Regions from separate parts of the Homo sapiens genome. Here regions 2, 3, 4 and 5 are each linked to region 1. Evidence: fine-mapped expression QTL. A gene starts in region 1. Each other region holds a variant in brackets. All regions are shown on one strand. Distances are from middle to middle. Region 1 holds the start of PPP2R3C (protein phosphatase 2 regulatory subunit B''gamma). Region 2 overlaps PRORP (protein only RNase P catalytic subunit). Region 3 overlaps PRORP (protein only RNase P catalytic subunit). Region 4 has its middle 29 kb from the start of PSMA6. Region 5 overlaps PRORP (protein only RNase P catalytic subunit).

The links. PIP is the estimated chance that this variant, and not a neighbour inherited with it, causes the effect.
Region 2: its variant is fine-mapped to the expression of PPP2R3C in whole blood (INTERVAL, PIP above 0.99).
Region 3: its variant is fine-mapped to the expression of PPP2R3C in monocytes after Pam3CSK4 (Quach 2016, PIP 0.95).
Region 4: its variant is fine-mapped to the expression of PPP2R3C in whole blood (INTERVAL, PIP 0.92).
Region 5: its variant is fine-mapped to the expression of PPP2R3C in lymphoblastoid cells (GTEx, PIP above 0.99).

Annotation. Positions count from the first base shown.
Region 1 is chr14:35,119,085-35,124,188 of GRCh38, forward strand. It overlaps PPP2R3C (protein phosphatase 2 regulatory subunit B''gamma), which reads right to left and starts at 2,906. Exons shown (of 13, transcript NM_017917.4): 1 at 2,818-2,906. The coding sequence starts at 2,875. It overlaps PRORP (protein only RNase P catalytic subunit), which reads left to right and starts at 3,468. Exons shown (of 8, transcript NM_014672.4): 1 at 3,468-3,551; 2 at 3,868-5,104. The coding sequence starts at 4,162. It overlaps PRORP-PSMA6 (PRORP-PSMA6 readthrough), which reads left to right and starts at 2,755. Exons shown (of 15, transcript NR_182666.1): 1 at 2,755-2,968; 2 at 3,868-5,104. RefSeq lists enhancers at 2,110-3,309, 2,529-3,448, 2,692-2,821, 3,362-3,441, 3,449-4,368 and 1 more.
Region 2 is chr14:35,147,526-35,152,629 of GRCh38, forward strand. The region is part of intron 4 of PRORP (protein only RNase P catalytic subunit); the gene reads left to right. The region is part of intron 4 of PRORP-PSMA6 (PRORP-PSMA6 readthrough); the gene reads left to right. Among named protein-coding and RNA genes, the nearest start is that of PRORP, 28 kb to the left of the region's middle. The variant A/G (reference allele first, on the strand shown) is at 3,085.
Region 3 is chr14:35,212,801-35,217,904 of GRCh38, forward strand. All of the region lies in intron 5 of PRORP (protein only RNase P catalytic subunit), which reads left to right. The region is part of intron 5 of PRORP-PSMA6 (PRORP-PSMA6 readthrough); the gene reads left to right. Among named protein-coding and RNA genes, the nearest start is that of PSMA6, 77 kb to the right of the region's middle. The variant T/C (reference allele first, on the strand shown) is at 1,999.
Region 4 is chr14:35,319,054-35,324,157 of GRCh38, forward strand. No RefSeq gene overlaps it. Among named protein-coding and RNA genes, the nearest start is that of PSMA6, 29 kb to the left of the region's middle. The variant T/G (reference allele first, on the strand shown) is at 2,208.
Region 5 is chr14:35,235,770-35,240,873 of GRCh38, forward strand. The region is part of intron 5 of PRORP (protein only RNase P catalytic subunit); the gene reads left to right. The region is part of intron 5 of PRORP-PSMA6 (PRORP-PSMA6 readthrough); the gene reads left to right. Among named protein-coding and RNA genes, the nearest start is that of PSMA6, 54 kb to the right of the region's middle. The variant C/T (reference allele first, on the strand shown) is at 1,982.

The sequences.
Region 1 (5,104 bases):
TGGAGAGCAGTGTCGTAATCTCAGCTCACCGCAACTTCTGCCTCCTGGGTTCAAGCGATTCTCCCGCTTCAGCCTCCCAAGTAGCTGGGATTACAGGTGTGCACCACTGCGCCCAGCTACTTTTTGTATTTTTAGTAGAGACGGACTTTCACCATGTTGGCCAGGCTGGTCTTGAACTCCTGACCTCAAGTGATCTGCCTACCTCGGCCTCCCGAAGTGTTGGGATTACAGGTGTAAGCCACAGTGCCCAGCCCAAATGAATTTTTTTTAAGACAGGGTCTGGCTCTTGTCACCCAGGCTGCAGTATAGTGTCATGATCATAGCTCACTGCAGCCCCAAACTCCTAGACTGAAACAACCCTCCCTGCTTCAGCCTCTCGAGTAGCTAGGACTACAGTGGTGCACAACCACCCGGGCTAATTTTTTACTTTCTATTTTTGTAGAAACGGTGTTTCACTATGTTGCCCAGGCTGGTCTCAAACTCCTGGCCTCAAGCGATCTTCCCATCTCGGCCTCCCAAAGTGCTGGGGTTACATGAATGAGCCACCGAGCCTCCCAACACCACTACCCCCGACCACCCACCTTTTAAAAAGATGGGTGATATTAACAGCACGTTTGTGCTGGTGTAAATGATCCAGCAGAAGGAAAATCTGATGATGTAGGAAAGAAAGGAGGAGGCTGGAAGGAAGTCAGTGAATACAGGGAAAAGAATGCAATCTAGTGGTGGACTGGAGGGACTCTTAAATAGGAGCATGGACAGTTCATCTTTTTTTTTTTTTTTTTTTGAGACGGAGTCTCGCTCTGTCGCCCAGGCTGGAGTGCAGTGGCACAATCTCCGGCTCACTACAACCTCCGCCTCCCGGGTTCACGCCATTCTCCTGCCTCAGCCTCCTGAGTAGCTGGGACTACAGGCGCCCGCCACCGCACCCGTCTAATTTTTTGTATTTTTAGTAGAGACGGGGTTTCACTGCGGTCTCAGTCTCCTGACCTCGTGATCCGCCCGCCTCGGCCTCCCAAAGTGCTGGGATTACAGGCTTGAGCCACCGCGCCCGGCATCAGTTCATCATTTTAACAGTGAAGCCAGAGTGTATGGGCAACTAACTGTGGGGTTGTGGGGCTGAAAGAAATGTTAAGGGGGACAGGTGATGTTCTCCTCTGACTGCTTCTCCTTTTTTTTTGAGACTGAGTGTCGCTCGGTCGCCCAGGCCGGAGTGCAGTGGCACAATCTCGGGCTCACTGCAAGCTCCGCCTCTCGGGTTGAAGGTATTCTCCTGCCTCAACCTCTGGAGTAGCTGGGACTATAGGCGCCCGCCACCACTACCGGGTAATTTTTTTGTATTTTTAGTAGAGACGGGGTTTCACCGTGTTAGCCAGGATGGTCTCGATCTGCTGACCTCGTGATCCGCCCGCCTCGGCCTCCCAAAGTGCTGGGATTACAGGACTGAGCGACCGCGCCCGGCCGACTGCTTCTCCTTTCTTAATGAGATATATATTAAAATACAAGTTCATCAGCTTAAAGTAAGAAGCGGGTAGGACAGACTGCAGGTGTAGGAGATGAGAAGAATAGTGTAAAAGAGTGTTGCCTGGGTGCGGCGGCTCACGTCTGTAATAGCAACACTTTGGGAGGTGGAGGTAGGAAGACTGCCTGAGGCCAGGAATTCGAGACCAGCCCAGGCAACATAGCAAGACCTCATCTCCACTAAAAATAAAAAATTAGCCGGGTGTGGTGGCGTGTGCCTGTACTTCTAGCTGCTCAAGAGGCTGGGGTGGGAAGATCCCTTGAGCCCAGGAAATCGAGGTTGCAGCAATACTTCACTGCGCCGCTGCACTCCAGCCTGGGCAACACAGGGAGATCCTGTATCGGAAAAAAAAAAGTGTATTTAGGAAAACACAGATTGGCAGTTTGGGAGATGAAAATTGAATGTAGGAGAATGAACGTCCAGGAAAACACGGTAGACATGACCAAAACACCTTCTTTAGATTAGTGGACTTGTATTAAAAGTGAGATAACTCGGCGGGGCGCGGTGACTCACGTCTGTAATTCCAGCACTTTGGGAGGCCGAGGTGGGCGAATCACAAGGTCAGGAGTTTGAGACCAGCCTGGCCAATATGGCGAAACCCCGTCTCTACTAGAAATACAAAAATTAACCGGCCGTGGTTGCGCGCGCTTATAGTTCCAGCTACTCCAGAGGCTGAGGCAGAAGAACCGCTTGAACCCGGGAGGCAGAGGTTGCAGTGAGCGGAGATGCTGCCACTGCACTCCAGCCAGCCTGGGCGACAGAGCAAGAGACTCCGTCTCAAAAAAAAAAGTGAGACAACTCACCAAGGTTCTGTTTTTCTCCAGCCACTTTCAACAGCCCTTAGTGCGGGTGTGGAATAGGAAAGGTAGATTTAACGAGGTTAGTTAATAAGCAATGTGAAGGAGAAAAATAAAAGGAAAAATGGATTATGAAATATAAAATGGATTACGAGGGAAGCAAAAAGCGTGACAGTAAAAAGGCAGGAGGACAATTATAGGTCCTGGTGGGGTTCAGGCGTTGTTGGAGCCGGGGTTCCAAGTTATTCTTCACAAGTTTAGATTAAGACCATGGAAGTCAGTGACTAAAGCTAAGTTTTTCGTTCCTCTAGATTCTGCCCCAGGAAAGTTTGGGTCAAACCTATCGGGATCCTTAAACCACATTCCACTCCGCCTCCTTTGTCGGGAGGTTTCACAGAAGCGGAAAAGGCGGCTCCCCCTTGCTCCTCCTCCCCACCTCCCCCCTACCTCTAGGAGTTTAGGGCCGGGCCATCCCAACGGGCTGCCCCTCCCAAAACTCACTGTTTGGACAGGTGTTGGGCGTCGCTAGGCGCCGACGAAGAACTTCTTTCCAGTCCATGGCCGACTTCCGCGCAGCAGCTTCTGCATTTGCTGTTTCCTACCTGCTCCACCCCTACCAGCTCAGGCGTCAGCACCGCCAGGCCCCGTAAAGGTTAGGAAGGCCGTCCAACCACCATCTTGATCGAGGGCGGAAGTCTTGGCTAAAGAGGCAAAAACAATTACTGTCACTGCCGCGGAGAATACCGCTACCACGCTGACTGGGGGAAAAAACTATGAAAGAGATGGAAAATGGTTCTCCTTCAGAGGCGACCCAAGCTCACCAAGCCGGATTTTAAAGGCCACGATAAGCCCGCGTTTTCCTTTATCGTGTGCCTTTGGCGCGTGCGCACCACGTGACCCAGGAGTTCATTAGTTCCGGCTTGAGGGAAGCGCCTTCTTTCACAATTTCTTTTCATTGTTCATTGCGGATATCTGGAAGCCTTCCAGGTCCCCTGAATGTAGTAGACACTTCAGCAGCCGTCTCCTACCCCTTTTGCCACTAAATGCTTCAAAACTGCCTTTTTTCCTCGCCGCCGGGCCAGGCGGAACGCCTAAGTCCGGGTCAGTCTCGTCCGTCGGTCGGGGCTGGCGCGGTGCATCGTGGGCACTGTAGTTTCCGCCGCGTTTATGGCCGCGTTAAGTCTGAGTGCCGCTTTGAGTTGTTGAATGAAGTGAACTTCATTTGTCAGCGTTCGGTACGCAGTCTAGGCAGCGCCCTTCCTGTACCTCTCTTCCTTTCCTGAGTCGTTGGCGCAGCTGACTCGCCACCTCCTCCCTCCTCGTCCCCCCACCGGAGGAGTTTTGCGGTCTGTAGAGAGCTATGCAGGGTGAGGGCCCCTAGACTTCGGCTTTCGCCGCTGTTGGTGGTAGGCTGGAGTTGGGGGTCCCTGGATACGGTTTTGGCTTTACACCCCCTTTCCAGCAAGCTTCCCGTGGGAATCTGTTCCTTTTCAGGACAGCTGTGATCCACGTGAGTAAAACTGGGCGTTCCGTCTTGTGCTTTTTCCTCAGGTTCATGAACTGGAATGTAAGAGGCACCAGAGGATTCCTGCTCTGTCCCCTGGTTTGCGGCTTGCGACGTTGGACATCCCCGGATTGTTGTTTAATAGAGAAAACTCACCTGCCTTCTTGCTTTTAAGTAGCCCCAAAAGCAGAACCTTGATTTGTCTGTAAGGAAGAAACACAAACCTTTTAAAAAGTTCCACTTCGACTCTGCACCGCCGACCCCCAATCTCTTTAATTTTGCCATAGAAGAGGGGTTTTTTCAACATCTCTCTCACTATCTGGTGCTGATCTCACTGCATAATGACTTTCTATTTGTTTGGTATTCGAAGCTTTCCGAAGCTTTGGAAGAGCCCATACCTTGGGCTAGGCCCAGGGCACTCTTATGTCTCGCTGTTTCTGGCAGACCGCTGTGGCATCAGGAACCAGCAGAGGTTGTTTTCTCTTAAAACAATGTCTCCACAGAATACCAAAGCAACGAATCTGATTGCCAAGGCCAGATATCTCAGGAAAGATGAGGGCAGTAATAAGCAAGTTTATTCTGTTCCTCATTTTTTTTTAGCTGGAGCAGCTAAGGAGAGATCACAGATGAATTCTCAAACTGAAGATCATGCCTTGGCACCTGTGAGGAACACTATTCAACTCCCAACACAACCTTTGAATTCAGAGGAGTGGGATAAACTTAAGGAAGATTTAAAAGAAAACACCGGAAAGACCAGTTTCGAAAGTTGGATCATTTCACAGATGGCTGGCTGTCATAGCTCTATAGATGTGGCTAAATCTCTGCTGGCATGGGTAGCAGCCAAAAATAATGGTATTGTAAGTTACGATTTACTGGTCAAGTATTTGTATCTCTGTGTCTTTCATATGCAGACATCTGAAGTTATTGATGTCTTTGAAATTATGAAAGCCAGATATAAGACTTTAGAACCTAGAGGTTACAGTCTTCTCATCCGGGGATTGATCCATTCAGACAGATGGAGAGAAGCATTGTTGCTGTTAGAGGACATCAAAAAAGTTATAACTCCTTCAAAAAAGAACTATAATGACTGTATCCAGGGAGCTCTCCTTCATCAAGATGTAAACACAGCTTGGAATTTATATCAGGAATTGCTAGGTCATGATATTGTTCCTATGTTGGAAACTTTAAAAGCTTTCTTTGATTTTGGAAAAGACATAAAGGATGATAACTATTCAAATAAACTACTAGATATTCTTTCATATCTAAGAAATAATCAGCTGTATC
Region 2 (5,104 bases), 28 kb after region 1:
GTCGAGCTGGGGTTTTGCCACATTGCCCAGGCTGGTCTTGAACTCCTGGGCTCAAACGATCCACCCACCTCAGCCTCCCAACATGCTGGGATTACAGGCATGAGCCACTGTGTGGCAATTTCTTAAAATAAGACAATAATGAAGTTTGCCACATAAATTGACTCTTCTTATCACAAAATATTTTTCTGCAGCATGCAGTGCTTTTTGAAAGCATTTTACCACATTAGAACTTTTTTCAAAATTGGAGTCAATCCTCTGAAATCCTGCTGCTGCCTTGTCAACTAAGTTTACGTAATATTCTAAATTCTTTGTTATCATTTTAACAATATTTACAACGTGTCTACTAGGAGTGAGTTTTATTTCAAGAAACCACTTTCTTTGCTAATCCATAAGAAGAAATTCCTAATCCAAGTTTTATTTTGTGATTGAAGCAATTCAGTCACATCTTCAGGCTCCACTTCTAATTCTAGTTCTCTTGCTATTTCCACCATATCTGCAGTTCCTTCTTCCACTGAAATTTTGAATCCCTCCGAGTCATCCATGAGGGTTGGTGTCAACTTCTTCCAAACCTGTTACTGTTGATATTTCAACCTCTTTCCATGAATCACAAATGTTCTTAGTGGCATGTAGATCGGTGAATCCTTTCCAGAAAGTTTTCCGTTGACTTTGCCCAAATCCTTCAGAGCAATCACTGTCTATGACAGCTATAGCCTTACAAAACATGTTTTTCAAATAATAAGACTAGAAAGTCGAATTTACTCTTTTATCCATGGGCTTTAGAATGGATGTTGTGTTGGTAGACATGAAAACAACTTTCATCTCCTTATACATCTCCATAAGAGCTCTTGGGTGACTAAGTGCATTGTCACTGAGCAATAATATTTTGAAGAGTCTTTTTTTTGGAGCAGTAGGTCTCCACAGTGGGCTTGAAATATTCAGTAAACCATGCTGTAGACAGATGTGCTGTTAGCCAGGCTTTGTTCCATTGATAGAGCATAGGCAGAGGAGATTCAGCATAATTGTTAAGGACTCTAAGATTTTTGGAATGGTAAACGGGCATTGACTTCAATAAAGTCACCAGCTGTATTAGCCCATAACAAGAGAGTCAGCCTGTCCCTTGAAGTTTTGAAGTCAAGCATTGACTTCTCTCTAGCTATGAAAATTCTAGATGGCATCTTCTTCCAATAGAAGGGGCTGTTTTGTCTCCACGGAAAATCTGTTGCTTAGTGTAGCCACCTTCATCAGTGATCTTAGATCTTCTGGATAGCTTGCTGCAGCTTCTACATGAGTACTTGCTGCTTCACCTTGCACTTTTTTTGTTTTTTGTGTTGGTTCCACCAGTCTGTGCCCATAACCTCCCAGCAGCCTACATGTTGCACTTTTTAATTTTTTTTTTTTTTTTTTTTTTTTTGAGACGGAGTCTCGCTCTGTGGCCCAGGTGGGAGTGCAGTGGCGCAATCTCGGCTCACTGCAAGCTCCGCCTCCCAGGTTCACGCCATTCTCCTGCCTCAGCCTCCCGAGTAGCTGGGACAACAGGCGCCCGCCACCACGCCCGGCTAATTTTTTTGTATTTTTAGTAGAGATGGGGTTTCACCGTGTTAGCCAGGATGGTCTCGATCTCCTGACCTCGTGATCCGCCCGCCTCGGCCTCCCAAAGTGCTGGGATTACAAGCGTGAGCCACCGCGCCCGGCCTAATTTTTTTTTTTAATACAGTGTCTCATTCTGTCATCCAGGCTGGAGTGTGGTGCTATGATCATAGTCCACTGGGGCCTCGAACTCCTGTGCTCAAGTAATCCTCCCATCTAGGCCTCCCAAGTAGCTAGGACTACAGGCATACCACCATACCTGGATCATTTTTAAATTTTTTGTAGAGATAGGATCTTGCTATGTTGCCCAGACTGGTCTCGAACGCCTGACCTCAAGTGATCCTCTTGCTTCAGCCTCCCAAAGTACTGTGATTACAGGTGTGAGCAACCATGACTGGCACCTTGCATTTTTATGTTATGGGGATTGCTTATTTTCTTAAACCTCTTGAGCCAAATTCTGCTGGCCTCCAACTTTTCTTCTACGGCTTCATCACCTCTGTCAGCCTTTGTGGAATTGAAGCATTCAGGTCTTGCTTTGGCTTAAGAGAATGTTGTGGCTGGTTTGATGTTTCATCCAGACCACCAAAACTTTCTTCATATCAGCAATAAGGCTATTTTGCTTTCTTATCATTTATTTGTTCACTGAAGTAGCACTTCTGATTTCTTTCGAGAACTTTGCATTTGCAAAGTTTGGTACCTAGCTTTTGGCCTATCTTAGCTTTTTTGTTTTGTTTTGTTTTGTTTTTTAAGGCGGGGAGACAGAGTCTCACTCTATCACCCAGGCTGGAGTGCAGCGGCATAATCTCAGTTCACTGCAACCTCTGCCTCCCAGGTTCAGTTGAGCAATCCTCATGCCTCAGCCTCCCGAGTAGCTGGGGATTACAGGCATGTGTCACCACACCGGCTAATTTTTAGTAGAGATGGGGTGTCGCCATGTTTCCCAGGCTGGTCTGGAACTTCTGGCCTCAAGTGATCCGCCTGCCTCGGCCTCCCAAAATGTTGGGATTACAGGCGTGAGCCACCATGCCCAGCCCTGTCTTAGCTTTTGACATGCCTTCCTCACTAAGCTCAGTGATTTCAAGCTTTTGATTTAAAGTGTAAGACCGGAGACTCTTCCTTTCACTTGAACACCTAGAGGCCATCGTAGAATTATTAATTGGCCTAATTTCAGTATTGTTGTGTCTCAGGTAATAGGGAGGCCTGAACAGAGGGAGAAAGATGGGGAAATGGCTGTTGGTGGAGCAATCAGAAGTCACACAACATTTATTGATTAAGTTTACTGTCTTACAGCAGCACGGTTTCTGGTGCCCTAAAACAATTACCATTCAGGTATGTCGGTGCAAGAATTCTGGCCAAAAATGTAAAGCTTCTAGAAAAATCAATGAATTCAGAATTTTAGGAAGGTTAAAAAGTTAAAAGGACAAGCAGGTCACTCCTAGCAGTGGCCTTCCCAATGTCAAATGTTTTCCTTATTTCTTCATTCTTTTTCTTTTATGT[A/G]ACACTTGACTGAAATTCTACCAGCTGGGATCCAGGCTTTTTTATGAGATTTAGCTTGAAGCAGTGTACTTTCCTCCTAAAGCCTAGCTGAGTTTGGCTTTACAAGGAAATGAAAATTATGTGTGGCTATGGGTGTTTGGCTGCTGCTGTTTTAGAGTTGGGTTGGTGATTTTTCATAGAGAACGTTTTGAGGGGCTGATCTGAGGGGGGTGCTCAAATGGAAAGTTTTGTGTGGAGTAGTGTGCTAGAGACAGAGGGATAAAGTCACCTTTAGGAGGTTGAAACAAGGTGGGAGTGTGCAAAGGAGATACTTGACTTTTCTTGTGCTAAGGGCAAGAGAGTCTTATCTTTCTTACAGCGAGTGATCTTTTCTCTCTCAGATTCAGGTTGGCATTATTACTGTTATACTATAACCCATTGCATCATTTGGCTTGGAAACCAAGCCATTTTTAAATTAATTTTTATTTATGGGAAAAGTGTTGTGAGTTCTTTATAATCATCTACTAAGTGAATTTTTAGAAACAGTATTTGGAAGTGAGGTACGTCCCAGAGTGATACACTTTTAGTGTTATTTTTCTTAAAAGATTCTGCCTAGGATTTTTGATTTAGTTTTTCTATAGCTATTGCTTAAATGTATCGATTTTATTGCTTTTTCATTTGGTCTTCTTAGAGAATAGAATAATGTAAATAAGATACTAGATTAGAAACAGTAATACTGGTGCTGAAGACAGACAGCTTACTTCTGAAGGAAGAGAAAACTACCAGTGTGAAAGAGCAGCAGCTGAGATGTTGAGAATAAGGCCTCTGATCACCACTGAACCAAACTCCCGATCTTTATACACATGTATAGTCTTCCCTATCTCAGTAAATACAACTTTTTCCTTCTAGCTATTCAGGTCAAAAAGGTCAGAATCATCCTTGATTCCCCTCTTTCCTTCATATCCCCATTCTAATCTGCCAGCACTCCCTATTTTCCATCTCTGCTTTATTTTTCTCCATAGCACTTATCTGACATGCTACACACACACATACACACACACACACACACACACACACACACACACACACAGAGCTTTTACTATATATCTTTTCTCTGTATAGAGTGAAAGCACCACAAGGGTAGGGATTTTTAAATGCCTGTTTAGAACACTGTTGTATCCTCATAACTCAGAATAGTGCTTTACATAAAGATGCTCAATTTGTTGAATAAATGAATAATAGTTACCATTTACTGAATTCTTAGTGTCAGGCTAAGATCTTTGTGCTAGGATCTTTGTATCAGTTATCTCTAATTTTTTTTCTTCTTTTTTTTTTGTTAATCCATCTTTTTTTTTTTTTTTTTATTGATCATTCTTGGGTGTTTCTCGCAGAGGGGGATTTGGCAGGGTCATAGGACAATAGTGGAGGGAAGGTCAGCAGATAAACAAGTGAACAAAGGTCTCCGGTTTTCCTAGGCAGAGGACCCTGCGGCCCTCCGCAGTGTCTGTGTCCCTGGGTACTTGAGATTAGGGAGTGGTGATGACTCTCAACGAGCATGCTGCCTTCAAGCATCTGTTTAACAAAGCACATCTTGCACCGCCCTTAATCCATTCAACCCTGAGTGGACACAGCACATGTTTCAGAGAGCACAGGGTTGGGGATAAGGTCATAGATCAACAGCATCCCAAGGCAGAAGAATTTTTCTTAGTACAGAACAAAATGAAGTCTCCCATGTCTGCTTCTTTCTACACAGACACAGCAACAATCTGATTTCTCTATCTTTTCCCCACCTTTCCCCCTTTTCTATTCCACAAAACCGCCATCATCATCATGGCCCGTTCTCAATGAGCTGTTGGGTACACCTCCCAGACGGGATGGTGGCCGGGCAGAGGGGCTCCTCACTTCCCAGAAGGGGCGGCCAGGCAGAGGTGCCTCCCACCTCCCGGATGGGGCAGCGGCCGGGTGGAGGCGCCCCCCACCTCCCTCCCGGACGGGGCGGCTGGCCGGGCGGGGGCTGACCCCCCCACCTCCGCCTCCCTCC
Region 3 (5,104 bases), 94 kb after region 1:
CCTCTCCTTTGAAGCTTTGAAGCCAGGCATTGACTTCTCTTCTCTAGTTATGAAAGTCCTAGATGGCATCTTCTAATAGAAGGCTTTTTTGTCTCCATTGCCAATCTGTTGTTTAGTATAGCCACCTTTATCAATGATCTTAGCTAGGTCTTCGGAATAACTCACTGCAGCTTCTCCATCAGCACTTGCTACTTCGTCTTACACTTTTATGTCATGGAGATGCCTACTTTCTTTAAACCTCATGAGCCAACCTCTGCCAACTTCCAGCTTTTCTTCTGCAGCTTTCTTGCCTCTCTCAAACTTCATAGAATTGAAGAGAGTTTAGGGCCTTGCTCTGGATTACGTTTTGGTGTAAGGGCATGTTGTGGCTGGTTTTGTCTTCTACCCAGGCCACAAAAACTTCATCTCAGCAATAGGCTGTTTTGCTTTCTTTATCGTTTGCGTGTTCACTGGCATAACACTTTAAATTTCCTTCAAGAACTTTTCCTGGTTGGGCACGGTGGCTCATTCCTATAGTCCTAGCTTGGAAAGCTGGTGGGAGGATCACTTCAGCCCAGGAGTTCAAGGCTGCAGTGAGCTGTGATTGCACAACTGCACTCCAGTCTGCAGAGTGAGATCCTGTCTCCTTAAAAAAAATAAAATAAAAATAAAGGAAAAAAACCTTTTTCTTTGCATACACAACTTGGGTAACTGGCACAAAAGGCCTAGCTTTTGACCTGTCTTGGCTTTCAACATGCCCTCCTCACTAATCATCTGTAGATTTTTATTTAAGGTAGGAAATGTGCAACTCTTCCTTTCACTTTTGAACACTTAGTGGTCATCACAGGGTTAATTGGCCTAATTTTGATATTATTATGTCTTGGGGAAAGGGAAGAGAGGGAGAGAGATGGAAGAACAGCTGATGGGTGGAGCAGTCAGAACACACACAACATTTATCGATTAGATTCTCCATCTTACGTGAGTGTGGTTCATGGCACCCCAAAACAATTACAGTAGTAACATCCAAGATCACAGATCACTATGACAGATATAATAATAATGAAAAATTGGAAATATTGTGAGAAGTACCAAAATGTGACATAAAGACAAGAAGTGCTGTTGGAAAAATGGTACTAATAGACTTGCTAAACACAGGACTGCCACCAATCTTCAATTTGTAAAAAATGAATATCTGTAAAGTAATGTGCAATAAAATAATGTATACCTGTATCATATTCCCTGTGCATCTGCTTAGTACACTTTAAAGACTGTTAATGGTGATGATGATAAAAGCCACACATTCTTTATTCATCACTTGTCAGAATGTTCATTTGTTTATTTTAGTGAGTCATCCTTCAAATAAGAGGAAAACAGCATGTTCTTTCAAAGAATACTGTCTGGGAAGCAAGGGTACTTCTCAGATCTAGGAGCAGGAGAATGAGAAAAGCTGAAATGACAAGCCCTGTATTATTTTTGAAGAAGAGTTGTATTTTTTATGGGTAGCCATTTGTAAACCAGCCTAAATAATGAAATTGTAGGAGTTTAGAATAATATCCCAGTACATTAGGTCAATTATGTGGTCAGAAGCCCCAAACAAATATTGAGTGTATTCTCATATTACGATTTTGTTTTCTGAAGTTAAATGGAATGATTTATATGCTTATCTTCTGTTGCATCTTAAAAAGATGTATTATTAGTAGACAAATGCAGAGGTTGTGTGGTTATATAAGTTATCTATTACTCTGACTTCTTAAGCAGCAGGGCAAGAATGGACATGTTTTTCTAAAATAAGACTTTTCTCCATCTTACATGGGTGTGGTTCCTGGCACCCCAAAACAAAGCTGGGGCCGGGTGTGGTGGCTCACGCCTATAATCTCAACACTTTGTGAGGCTGAGGTGGGTGGATCATCTGAGGCCAGGAGTTCGAGACCAGCCTGGCCAACATGGCGAAACTGCATCTCTACTAAAAATACAAAAATTATCTGGGTGTGGTGGTGCACACCTGTAATCCCAGCTACT[T/C]GGGTGGCTGAGGCAAGAGAATCGCTTGAACCCAGGAGGCAGAGGTTTCAGTGAGCCGAGATCGTGCCACTGCACTCCAGCCTGGGCGACAGAGCGAGACTCCCATCTCAAAACAAAACAAAGGTGGGTGTCTTGAGTGCCTTTTGAGTATAGGCCTTCAGACTTTCTGAGGATTGGGAAAGCATTTTTTTTTAACCTTAAAATATTTATTGAATAAAGAATGGCAAGATCAGAAAAATAAGCTCTGGTTAGGATTTGATGTGGGGCTTCATTCTCAGCTCTGTTGCTACCTCCTTTTATGATCTTCGGTGGTCTCTTTTCCTGTTCAAACCCCAGTTTCCTTATTTATAAGGAGATAATGAGGAGACCAGACTTAATATTCTCTAAAGATTCTTTCAGCTCTAAAAACTTAATGATTCAAGCAGGTTGCCTGTGAAGAACAATGCATTTCTTCCAAAAGAGGGTGCTGTGGTATTTCTCAGTACTTTAGCATCTTCTTGAAAGGAACTGAACAATGGTAGAATCTCAGCTTAATTTTGTGTCTTCAGACTCCCAACCTTTGAGAAATAGTGTCTAATTCCTTCCTTTATTTAGATGAGGCGATATAAACCAATTCCTGATGTTACTGACACTTAAGTAAGTTTCAAAGAAAAAAATAAAAAATACACATAATTTTACCAGGCAAATATAGACAGTTTTGTCAGATGTGGTGGCTCCCAGCACTGCAGGAGGATCACTTGAGGCTGGTAATTTGAAACCAGCCTAAGCAACAAAGTGACCGTGACTCAAAAAAAAAAATTAAAAATTATCTGGGAATGGTGGCGTCTGCCTATAGTCCTAGCTGTTTTGTTGGCTTGGAGGCGGAAGGATTGCTTGAGCCCAGGAATTCCAGGTTTCAGTGAGCTATGATTGAGCAATTATTTCACCACTGCACTCCAGCCCAGGTGACAGAGTAAGACTCTATCTCTCTTTTTTTTTTTCTTGGGGGGACAGGGTCTCACCCTGTCGCCCAGACTAGAATGCAGTGGCATGATCTCGGCTCACCACAGCCTCCACCTCCTGGGTTCAAGCAATTCTCCTGCCTCAGCCTCCTGAGTAGTTTGGATTACAGGTGCCCACCACCACGCCTGGCTAATTTTTGTATTTTTAGTAGAGACCGGGTTTCACCACGTTGGCCAGCCTGGTCTTGAACTCCTGACCTCAAATGATCCACCTGCCTCGGCCTCCCAAAGTGCTGGGATTATAGGCATGAGCCACCGCACCCAACCGTAAGACTCTAGCTTTAAATATAAATTACATATATGTATATATTTATATTTATATATAATATATAATATATTTATATAATACATTTATATTAGAGAGAGAGAAGGAGAGAGAGAGATAGTTTTAACATTTTGATGTATTTTCACTCTTATTCAACTTCTTCCCATAAAATTGAGAAAATATATAAATTATGTGTGCGTGTGTGTCATTTTATTTGTTTTTGTCTTTTTCCTTTCTGGGTTTTTTTTGTTGTTGTTGTTGTTTTGACAAGGTCTTGTTCTGTTGCCCAGGCTGGAATAGAGTGGCATGATCACAGCCCACTGCATTCTCAACCTCCTGGGCTCAAGCAATCCTCCCGCCTCAGCCCCCAAGTAGCTGGGACCAGAGGCACGTGCCACCACACCTGGCTAATTTTTTTATTTTTAGTAGAGATGAGGTCTCACTAGGTTGTCCACACTGGTATATCACATTTTATTTATCCATTCATCAGTTGAGTTGTTCCTACTTTTTGGCTATCATGAATAATACTACTGTATGAACATTTTTGTGCCTGTTTTTGTGTTGACATGTGTTTTTATTTCTCTTTAGTATATATGTAGGAGTAGAATTGTCAGTTCATATAGTAATTCTTCTATTAGGTTTTTGAGAAACTGTCAGACTTTTTTCTCCAAAGGGCTGTACCATTCTACATTCTCACCAGCAGTATATAAAGGATCTAATTTCTCCATATCCTTGCTAGCACTTGTTGTTAACTGTCTTTTTTATTATAGTCGTACTAATAGGTGTGAAGTGGTATCGTAAGTGATTTTTGACTCGTGTTTCTCTGATGGCTAATGATGTTGAGCATCTTTTAATATGCTTATTAGCCATTTGTGTATAGTCTATGGAGAAATGTCCATTCAGATCCTTTGCCTATTTTAAAATTGGATTGATTTTCTTTTATTATTGAATTGTAAGAGTTCTTTATGCATTTTGGATATTAGGTCCTTCTCAGATATATATTTGCAAAATTTTCCCCCCATTCTGTTTTTGGCTTCACTTTCTTGAAGATGACTTTTGAAGCACAAAAGTTTTTAATTGTGATGATGTCCAATCTATTTTTTTTCTTTCATAACTTGTCTTTTTGGTTTTGTACCTTAAGAAACCATTGTCTAGGGTGGGCGCAGTGGCTCACGCCTGTAATCCCAGCACTTTGGGAGGCCAAGGTGGGCAGATCACCTGAGGTCAGGAGTTCTAGACCAGCCTTGCCAACATGGTGAAACCCCATCTCTACTGAAAATACAAAAATTAACCTGGCGTGGTGGCAGGCACCTGTAATCCCAGCTATTTGGGAGGCTAAGGCAGGAGAATCACTTGAACCTGGGAGGCAAAGGTTGAAGTGAACCAAGATTGTGTCACTGCACTCCGGCCTGGGTGACAGAGCAAGACTCTGTCTCAAAAAAAAAAAAAAAAAGAAAAGAAACCATTGTTTAATCCAAAGTAACAATGATTTACATCTTTTTTTCTAGGAGTTTTATAGTTTTACATTTAGGTTTTTTTTCTCTTTGAGTTGATTTTTGTACTTGGTATGAGTCCAACTTCACTTTTTGGTATATGGATATCTAGTTGTCCTGGCACTATTTGTTGAAAAGACTATTTTTCTCCTACTTGAATTATCTTGGTACCCTTCTTAAAAATGAATTCACCATAAATGTGAAGGTTTATTTCTGGACTCTCAATTTTATTCCATTGATCTGTTTGTCTGTCTTTATGCCAGTACCACACAGTCTTAATTAGTGTAGCTTTCTAGCAAGTTTTGAAGTCAGAAAGTGTGGGCCCTCCAATTTTGTTCCTTTTCTAA
Region 4 (5,104 bases), 200 kb after region 1:
TGGTACAAGTTTACTTGGCTTAAGACATTTCATAGCCAGCACCAGGCGTGCTGGCTCACACCTGTAACCCCAACACTTCGGGAGGCTTAGCCGGGCAGATCACTTGAGCTCAGGAGTTCAAGACCAGCCTGGGCAACAAGGTGAAACCCTGTCTCTACCAAAAATATAAAAACTTAGCATGCACATCTGTGGTCCCAGCTACTTAGGACACTGAGGAGGGAGAATTGCTTGAGCTCGGGGGATAGAGGTTGCAGTAAGCAGAGATTGTGCCACTGCACTCCAGCCTGGGTGACAGAAATGCCATCTTAAAAAAAAAAAAAAAAGCCAGAAATGTAAACTAGCTATATGGTATAATTAAATAACAAACTACAACTTTGGTTTTGAAACCCACTCTGGCCGGGCGCTGTGGCTCACACCTATAATCCCAGCACTTTGGGAGGCTGAAGTGAGAGGATTGCTTGAGGCCGGGAGTTTGTGATGAGCCTGGACTACATAGCAAGACCTCGTCTCTACAAAAAATTTTTAATTAGCTGGGCATGGTAGCCTGCACCTGTAGTCCCAGCTACTCAGGAGGCTAAGGCAAGAGGATCACTTGAGCCCAGGAGTCTGATGCTGCAGTGAGTTGTGATTGTGCCACTGCACTTAAGCTTGGGTGACAGAGTAAGACCCGGTCTCCAAAAAGAAATCCACCCTGACCGTAAGTTGGCATGTGAGGAAAGGCCTTTATTTTACAATTTCTCATTCAAACAAGATACTACTGAATGTGGACTCCAAGTCCCACTGAATGCTTTAACTATAATAAAAGGATTAGTATGATCTTCCATAGTTTTGAGAAAAGCATTTATACTCATTAAGAACCAGTATTTTCAAGGGTAGAAATTTTAGTTACCTTCAGGAAACAGGGCTAGAAAAGTCATAGAATGTGTGTAGTTTCTGTGCCTCCTTAATAATAAGTACTTGAAGATAACATTAAGGAATTGGTTTATATTAAAGTTTAGAGACCCAGCATCACAATGTTCAGGAAGAAAGAACAAACTGTATATTCATGGTAACTTTTTTTTTTTTTTGAGACAGAGTCTTGCTCTATCGTCCAGGCTAGAGTGCAGTGGCGTGATCTTGGCTCACTGCAACTTCCACCTCCCGGGATCAAGTGACTCTACTGCCTCAGCCTCCTGAGTAGCTGGGATTACAGGCACCTGGCACCATGCCCGGCTAATTATTATTATTATTATTATTATTTTTGTATTTTTAGTAGAGACGGGGTTTCACCATGTTGGCCAGGCTGGTCTCGAACTCCTGACCTCGTGATCCACCTGGCTCGGCCTCCCAAAGTGCTGGGATTACAGCTGTAAGCCACCGCACTCAGCTGTAGCCTATGTTTTTTTTAATGTACAGGATTTTTTAAAGTCCCTAGACTGGTGACCTGAACCACTAATTAGAGATGATTAAAAAATCTTGGAAAGTCTAAGGGTAATACATTTTGTGTCCTCTTTTGCACAGAGGAAGTCTGGTGCTGTTGACCTCATGCAGGTGAGTGTGGCTGCTGGTCTCATGCCAGTCCCTGAAATTAGAGTTGCCCCTGTTTCTGCAGCCACCAGGGCCACACAAGGGGAGGCCACATAAACATATGACCAGTAGAAGCAGGAAACTTCACCAACCACATCCTCTTCAGAGCTGTCAGGAATAGTAAAATTTCCTAACAAGGAAGCAGGGTTCTTCCTTGTTCTTCCAGGTTGTTCTAGGATTACCCATCCTAATCCACTAGGCTCTTTGAAAGTGCTGCCATCGTTTCGAAAGTGGGGTCTATGTAAAAGGGCTAATCCTCTAAAGACAAGCTGAATTTCCACACCCTTAGAGCCTTGACTGATGTCACCCTCCTAGAATCAGTGGATGAGAGACTAGCAACTAATTCAGTTTTACTGTTAGGGGCTCCTTTTCAGAGGTGAAAAACTAAAATTCTGTAATTTGTTAGAAAGTAAGTTTTTACATTATAAGGCAAAATCTAGATGAATTAGGATTAAATATAGAATAGTTTTAAATATTGGTTGTTTATGCTTAATTAAAAGAATGAGAAGAAATAGATCATTTTAAATAGGTGAACATTAGGCTGGGTACAGTAGCTCATGCCTATAGTCCCCAATACACTGGGAGCCCAAGACCAGTGTGGCAACATTTTGTCTCTACAGAAAAATTTAAAATTAGGTCAA[T/G]TGTGGTGGTGCACACACACCTGGAGTCCTAGCTACTTGGGAGGCTTAAGTGGGAGGGTCACTTGAGCCCAGGAATTCAAGGCTGTAGTAAACTATGATCACAACACTGTACTCCAGGCTGGGTGGCAAAGCAAGACCCTTTCTCTAATAATGAAAATAAAAGGGTGGACATTAAATACTCTAATTCTGGCTGGGCGCAGTGGCTCATGCCTGTAATCCCAGCACTTTGGGAGGCTGAGGCAGGCAGATCACCTGAGATCGGGAGTTCAAAAGCAGCCTGACCAACATGGCGAAACCCTGTCTATACTAAAAAAAAATTAGCCGGGCATGGTGGCACATGCCTGTAATCCCAGCTACTCGGGAGGCTGAGGCAGGAGAATCGCTTGAACCTGGGAGGTGGAGGTTGCAGTGAGCCAAGATCATGCCATTGCACCCCAGCCTGGGCAACAAGAGTGAAACTCTGTCTCAATCAATCTGTTTCTTGTTTTGTTTTCTAAACAAACTACCTGGAATGGATAACAAAGGGTTAATGCAGAAAGGTTATACAAAATGCCAAGAAAAATGCCTGAAATCTTTAAATATCTTTACTCAAAGAACATTTTGATTAGTAAGAAATACACATACCAGGCACAGTGGCTCACGCCTGTAATCCCAGCACTTTGGGAGGCCCAGGCAGGCGGATCACTTCAGGTCAGGAGTTCAAGACCAGCCTGGCCAACATGGCGAAACCCAGTATCTACAAAAATACAAAAATTAGCCAGATGTGGTGGCGTGCACCTGTAATTCCAGCTACTCAGGAGGCTGCGGCAGGAGAATCACTTGAACCCGGGAGGCCAAGGTTGCAGTGAGCTGAGATCGGACCACTGTACTCCAGCCTGGGCAACAGAGTGAGACTCCATCTAAAAATCAATCAATAAATATAAGAATACAGATATGAGGCCAAACACAGTGGCTTATGCCTGTAATCCTGGCACTGGGAGGCCAAGGGGGGTGGATCACTTGAGGTCAGAAGCTCGAGACCAGCCTGGCCAACTTGGTAAAACCCCATCTCTACTAAAAAATACAAAAATTAGCTGGGCATGGGGGCGCACACCTGTAGTCCCAGCTACTTAGGGGGCTGAGGCAGGAGAATCGTTTGAACCCGGGAGGCAGAGGTTGCAGTGAGCCGAGATCCCGCCACTGCACTTCAGCCTAGGCAAGAGAGCTAGACTGTCTCAAAAAAAAATACAGATATGATTTTTTAAATATGAGAAATATAATAATTCTGACACTCAGAGGATATGTCCAGACATTCATGAACGTGAAGCTATTTGGGTAGACATGAGGCTTTCCTTCTCTTGATACCTCATTTTTCATAAGCAGTTACTGTACCATTTAGGTTACAAGTCAGCAACAAACCAGGTACTCAGCTCCCTCACTAGCCTCCAAATCCAAGATCCAGATTTGTGACACAACCAAATTATTACATTAAGGATCTTCACGTAGGGGCACACACCTGTAGTCTAGCTACTCAGGAGGCTGAGGTGAGAGGATCACTTGAGCCCAAGAGGTCGAGGCTATAGTAAGCTGTGGTCACGCCACTGCACTCCAGTCTGGGGGACAGAATGAGACACCTGTCTCAAAAAAACAAACAAAAATCTAAAATGACAGCTAAGCTAATTAACATCATAATGGTGAATTAGTTTAAATTTTTTTATTTTTATTTATTTTTATTCTTTGAGACGGAGTCTCCTTCTGTCACCCAGGTTGGAGTGGAGGGGCACGATCTCGGCTCGCTGCAACCTCCGCTCCCAGGTTCAAGTGATTCTCTTGCCTCAGCCTCCTGAGTAGCTGGGATTACAGGCGCGTGCCACCACGCCCAGCTAATTTTTGTATTTTTAATAGAGACGAGGTTTCACCATGTTGGTCAGGCTGGTCTCCAACTCCTAACCTCGTGATCCACCTGCCTCGGCCTCCCAAAGTTCTGGGATTACAGGCGTGAGCCACCACGCCAAGCCTGTTTTATTTTTGTAGAGGCAGGGTCTCGCCATGTTGCCCAGACTGGTGTCCAACTCCTGGGCTCAAGCCATCCTCCTGCCTCAGCTTCCCAGTGTTGGAATTACAGGCGGGATTACAGCCACCATACCTGGCTCCAAGATGGCTTCTAACTCCATTTATTTTACATTCTGGAAATTCCAGCTGATACAATAAGAAATGAAATTAAGAGGTATTGGAATGGAGATAGAATTATAATCTACTATTTAGATTATTTACCTAAAAAAATAAGAAAGTGACCTAATAAAGTATTAGTCTTTATTGGGACAGGCCCTGTTTTAGATACAATATCCTTTAAACTGGTTTAAGTTGAACATTTATAATTTGCTTGTCTACAGTTCCAAAATTCAGGAAGTTCTTAAAACTCAACTGGCTTTTTATATCTCACTTTATTTCTGCAGAAATATGAATGTGCTTAATTATAGGGTGCTGCCCCAGACTCCAGTGGTAGAGTTATGGAATATATGGTTTAGACATCATATTACCACTCTAAAATCCAAAATACATTATATTCCGAACGCATCTGTGCCAGGCGTGGTGGCTCATGCTTATAATCCTCGCTGGGGAGGCCGAGGTGGGCAGATTGCCTGAGCTCAGGAGTTCGAGACCAGCTTGGGTAACATAGCAAAACCCCGTCTCTATTAAAAATACAAAAAAAAATTAGGCGTGGTGGCGCACGCCTGTAGTCCCAGGTACTCGGGAGGCTGAGGCACAAGAATCGCTTGAACCTGGGAGGCAGAGGTTGCAGTGAGCCAAGATTGCACCACTGCACTCCAGCCTGGGCCACAGAGTGAGACTCTGTTTAAAAAGAAAGAAAGAAAGAAAAGAACCTGGCCCCATGCCTTTTGGATAAAGAATAATAG
Region 5 (5,104 bases), 120 kb after region 1:
AGAATGTGGAAACTAGCCAGGCGTGGTGGCTCATGCCTGTGATCCCAGCATTTTGGGAGGCCGAGGTGGTGGATTGCTTGAGCTCAGGATTTTGAGACCAGCCTGGGCAAGGTGACAAAACCCATCTCTACCAAAAAAACAAACAAAAAAACACCACAAAAAACAGAAAACAAAAAATTAGCCAGGCAGAGTGATACACACATATAGTCCCAGCTACTGGGGAGGCTGAGGTGGGAGGACATCTTGAGCCCAGGAGGCGGAGGTTGCATTGAGCCGAGATTGTGCCACTGCACTCCAACCTGGGCAACACAGCAAGACCCCATCTCCAAAAAAAAAAAAAAAAAAAAAAGCATAAGGAAACTAAGACCCAGAAAAGGTTAAGTAACTTGTCTCATAGCTAGTAAATGGCAAAGTAACAGGATTAGACATGTCTCATTCCAAATTCCTTGTTCTTTCCCGTGTAACACACTGTTCTTTATATTTTAACCTACTGATCTATTTATCTGTTTTCTTGAAATACCATGGTAGACTCTTTGAGACATGCTTTTCTGATTCTCTTGGATCTCCATTGCTTTAATCACTAACTCATAAATAGCTAGCTTGCTCTAGTTTCTGTCCTCCTCATCTAAACCTCTCAAAAGACTGGTATACAATTCTTTTCTTGCTACCCATTTGCTCCCTAACCCCTAAGCCCACTGAAGTCTGGCTTAGTCTCCATCATTGCATTGAAAATGCTCTCCCTCAGGACAGCAGTAACTTCCTAATTGCCAGTTTTGATGAACATATTTTAGTCTTTATCACTCTTTTTCTGCATTTAATACTTTATAGATTCCTTTCTTCTTGAAATTGTCTATGTCTTTGAATTCTGTGACTTCACATTCTTATCCTTCTCATTACACTCTCTGACCATTCCTTGTTCTCTCTTGTTTTTGAACTTCCCTTCCTTCTCTTACTCCTTAAATGTTGGTGTTCTCTGATGTTCTATCTCTGCATCTTTACCTTAGACAGGTACTTGAAACTAAATACTGTATGTCCAAAACTGAACTTGCCATCTTCCTGCCAGACATCTACACCAATAGGTGGTACCAAATGTTCACCAAGTCTTGCCAATTTTACCTCCTAATTATTTCTCTCTCTCTCTCATCTTCTTTCTTTCTCTCTCTTTCTCCTTCTTTCTTTCATTTTTCTTTTCTTTCTTTTCTTTCCTTTCTTCCTCCCTCCCTCCTTCCCTCCTTCACTCCTTCCTTCCCTCCTTCTCTTCCTTCCTTCTCTTCCTTCCTTTCCTTCCCTTCCTTCCTTTCCTTCCTTCCTTCCTTCTCTCTCTCTCTCTCTTTCTCTCTCTCGACAGAGTCTTGCTCTGTCACCCAGGCTACAGTGCAGTGGCGCCATCACAGCTCACTGCAGCCTTGACCTCCTAGGCTGAAATGATCCTCCTGCCTCTGCATCCTGAGTAGCTGGGACCACAGACGTGCGCCACCACATCCAACTAATTTTTAAATTTTTCGTAGAGACAAAGTCTCCCTATGTTGCCCAGGCGGATCTCAAACTCCCAGACTCAAGCGATCCTCCCACCTAGACCTCCCAAAGTGCTGGGGTTACAGGCATCAACCACTATGCCCAGCTCTGTTTCTCAAATCCATTCTTTTCTCTTCTTCTTTTACCATATCTTTCTCATCAGATCCTTGTTAGTACCTGCTTAAATCCCTATCATAGCCTCCTAACTGGTTTCTCATCTTCAGTTTTGTTTCTTTCAAATCTATCCTCTTCCACAGGCAAAAATGACCATGTAACTTAAATCAATTTACAGTTAATGTTTTGACTAGGGAGATATCTGAATATATTAAAATATTTATAGTTCCCCTTTCCAATTTTGCCTTTTCACCTTCTTAAACTTCTATTTTTTATTTGAGACAGCGTCTTGCTCTGTTGCCCAGACTGGAGTACAGTGGTGCTATCTCGGCTCACTGCAACCTCTGCCTCC[C/T]GGGTACAAGAGATTCTCCTGCCTCAGCCTCCGCTGGGACTACAGGCGTATGCCACCAAGCCCGGCTAATTTTTTTTGTATTTCTAGTAGAGACGGGGTTTCACTGTGTTAGCCAGGATGGTCTTGATCTCCTGACCTTGTGCTCCACCCACCTCGGCCTCCCAAAGTGCTGGGATTACAGGCATGAGCCACCGTGCCTGGCCTTAAATTTTTAAATTAGATATAATATCTGTTCATTAAGTCAAACAAACAAAACTCTAAATACAGTGCACATAGCCATTCTAAGTTAACACATCTTTTTTTTTTTTCTCTGCGTTTTATGTGAAGGGCCAGAAACCAAACACTGTATTAAAGGTGGGCACTGTGCTTAAACAATCCTATGAAGAAATTAGATTCTCATTTTACAAATGAGAAAACTGAGGTGCAATTAAGTCACTTCCCTGAATCGTTAATAAAAGTAACAGATTCAGAATTGAAATGCCAATCTGACACCAAAGTCTGTGGTCTTTTACCGTGCCGCACTATCATGCCCTGTGGTATGCATTTGTAATTCCCAAACCCACATATCTAGACCGCCCCTCACTGGGTAGTTCTCTGGATTTGTTTACACCTGTAGGTTTGGACAGCCTACCAATGCCAGAAATTAGGATTTGGAGGATGAGTATGTATAGGAAAATGACACAAAGAAAGCCAGGTTGTAGGAAAGTTAACCTGGCAATGTCACAGGAGAAACAGCATTGAAAGACCAACCAAAAGACCTAATGACATCTTGAACTAAAGTGATGACAGTGGAATCTAAAAAAGAGGAAAAGAATGTGCTTAAAGGAATGAAAGTCTAGGACTTTGGGAAAAATATGTCAACTCTGTTGTCATTAAACCTCTTAATTCTCTTAAAATCTTAACCTTTTTAAGATTAAGATTCATTAAGTGAAACAAACAAAACTCTTTAAATACAGTGCACATAGCCATTCTAAGTTAACACGTCTTTTTTTCTCTGCATTTTATCTGAAGGGCCAGAAACCAAATACTCTTATTAAAGCTGGACACTGTGCTTAAGCAGTCCTATGAAGTAAGGCATATCAAAGCTTTTTTAAGGCATCACAAGGCTATATATAAATGTATGACATTGTGCTTTTACAGCCTAACAATAACAACACGTAGTCTTTTACAGCTTATAGAGTCCTTTCATTAATATTAAGTGATTTGATCCTCACACATCCCTATGGACTAAGTGTTGTATTTTTCTTACTTTACATATAAGGAAACTGGCTTAAAAGGCTGTGACTTGCCCAGAGGTAACAGCTCTCAAAACACTACACTAGGCCAGGTGTGGTGGTGGCTCACGGCTATAATCCTAGCACTTTAGGAGGCGAGGCGGGCGGATCTCTTGAGGTCAGGAGTTCAAAACCAGCCTGGCCAACATGGTGAAACCCCGTCTCTACTAAAAATACAAAAAAATTAGCCAGGTGTGGTGGCAGGTGCCTGTAATCCCAGCGACTTGGGAGGCTGAGGCAGGAAAACCCAGAGGCGGAGGTTGCAATGAGCCAAGATTGCAACACCGCACTCCAGCCTGGGTGACAGAGTAAGACTCCGTCTCAAGAAAAAAAAAAAAAAAACAAACTACACTAAATCCACTTCCTATGCTTTCTCCAGAGATGTCTGCTTCCCTAAAAACAAACAATATTTTTTCAAAGTACATGATCAAGGTGGAGCCCCTTTTCTCCTCAGCATTTGAATACCAGCTTATAATTAAGAGTTTATTAGATCAGGCAACGAGCTGGTGAAGAACAAGAACAGACTACTGTATAGTGTTCATAAAATTAGATGGCTGGTCTAAATTTTAGAAACAAGATTCTCGTGACCTTTGACAGGTTACATGTACATGACACATTGTTTCTTTGGCATTTCAGACGTTGCCTGCAAGCATTCTGTGAATGAAGCCATACCAGTGTCATGCCAAATCATGAACTGTCCTGCCCTGTACAACTAAAGAAAACCAAGGGTCTTCTGCTCTGGCCTCTATAGAATAAATTAGAAAAGTTGGCTGGGCACGGTGCCCCATGCTTGTAATCCCAGCACTTTGGGAGGCAGAGGCGGGCAGATCACCTGCGGTCAAGAGTTTGAGACCAGCCTGGCCAACATGGTGAAACCTTGTCTCTACTAAAAATACAAAAATTAGCCAGGCGTGGTGGCGTGCGCCTGTAGTCCCAGCTACTCAGGAGGCTGAGACAGGAAAATCGCTTGAACCTGGAAGGCGGAGGTTGCAGTGAGTGGAGATCATGCCACTGCACTCCAACCTGGGTGACAGAGTAAGACTCCATCTCAAAAAAAAAAAAAAAAGAAGAAGAAATTAGAAAAGATGTTGAAGAGCTTAGTAGGAATGTTGTACTGATTGGAATTAGAGTTGGTGGTTCATCAATCATTTCACTACCACCAAAGTTATGCCAGTTTCCTTGCATTCTGCATATACACATTTTTATTTTAGCATTCTTTAAAAATACTGTGGTTCCTGCTTCCTGGGCAGTGGTCAACTTTTAAACCATCTTTTTTTTTTTTTTTTTTTGGTTTAAAATTTACCCGGGTGGGTTTTCTTGATCTTTGTTTGTTTACGCCCATCCATAGCTACATGTGTATGCACACATGCAGGTAGTTACAGCCATTTCCAAGGCAACCAATTGTGTTTTGAGACAGCAAATAATTTCAGGGACAGCTGTGGTGCCTCCCACCTTCTTTTGCTGGTGTCACTTTTCCTATGCTGTATTAGCTATACAGGTGAAAAGAACCAACATTTAGTTCAAGTAAACATCCTTGGACTAGCATGTAGGATCACACTGGATCTCCTCATTTTTTTATTCTACAACATATCAGAAGTTCATAGCAGTTTTCTGGCTATTAGATTGTTCTTAAAATTTAATATCTTCACCTATTGAGTTACCCAAGCCAGCAATCACAGTGATTTCTACCTCCTTGTTCCTCCTCCTCCACATTGATTAAATCAACAAATTCTGCTGAAATTGCCTCCTCAATTAGTCCCTCTGGCCCTGCATTATCCAATATGGTAGCTACTAGCCAGTGGGTCTGTTGAGCACTTGAAATGTGGCTGACCAAATTGAGATGTGCTGT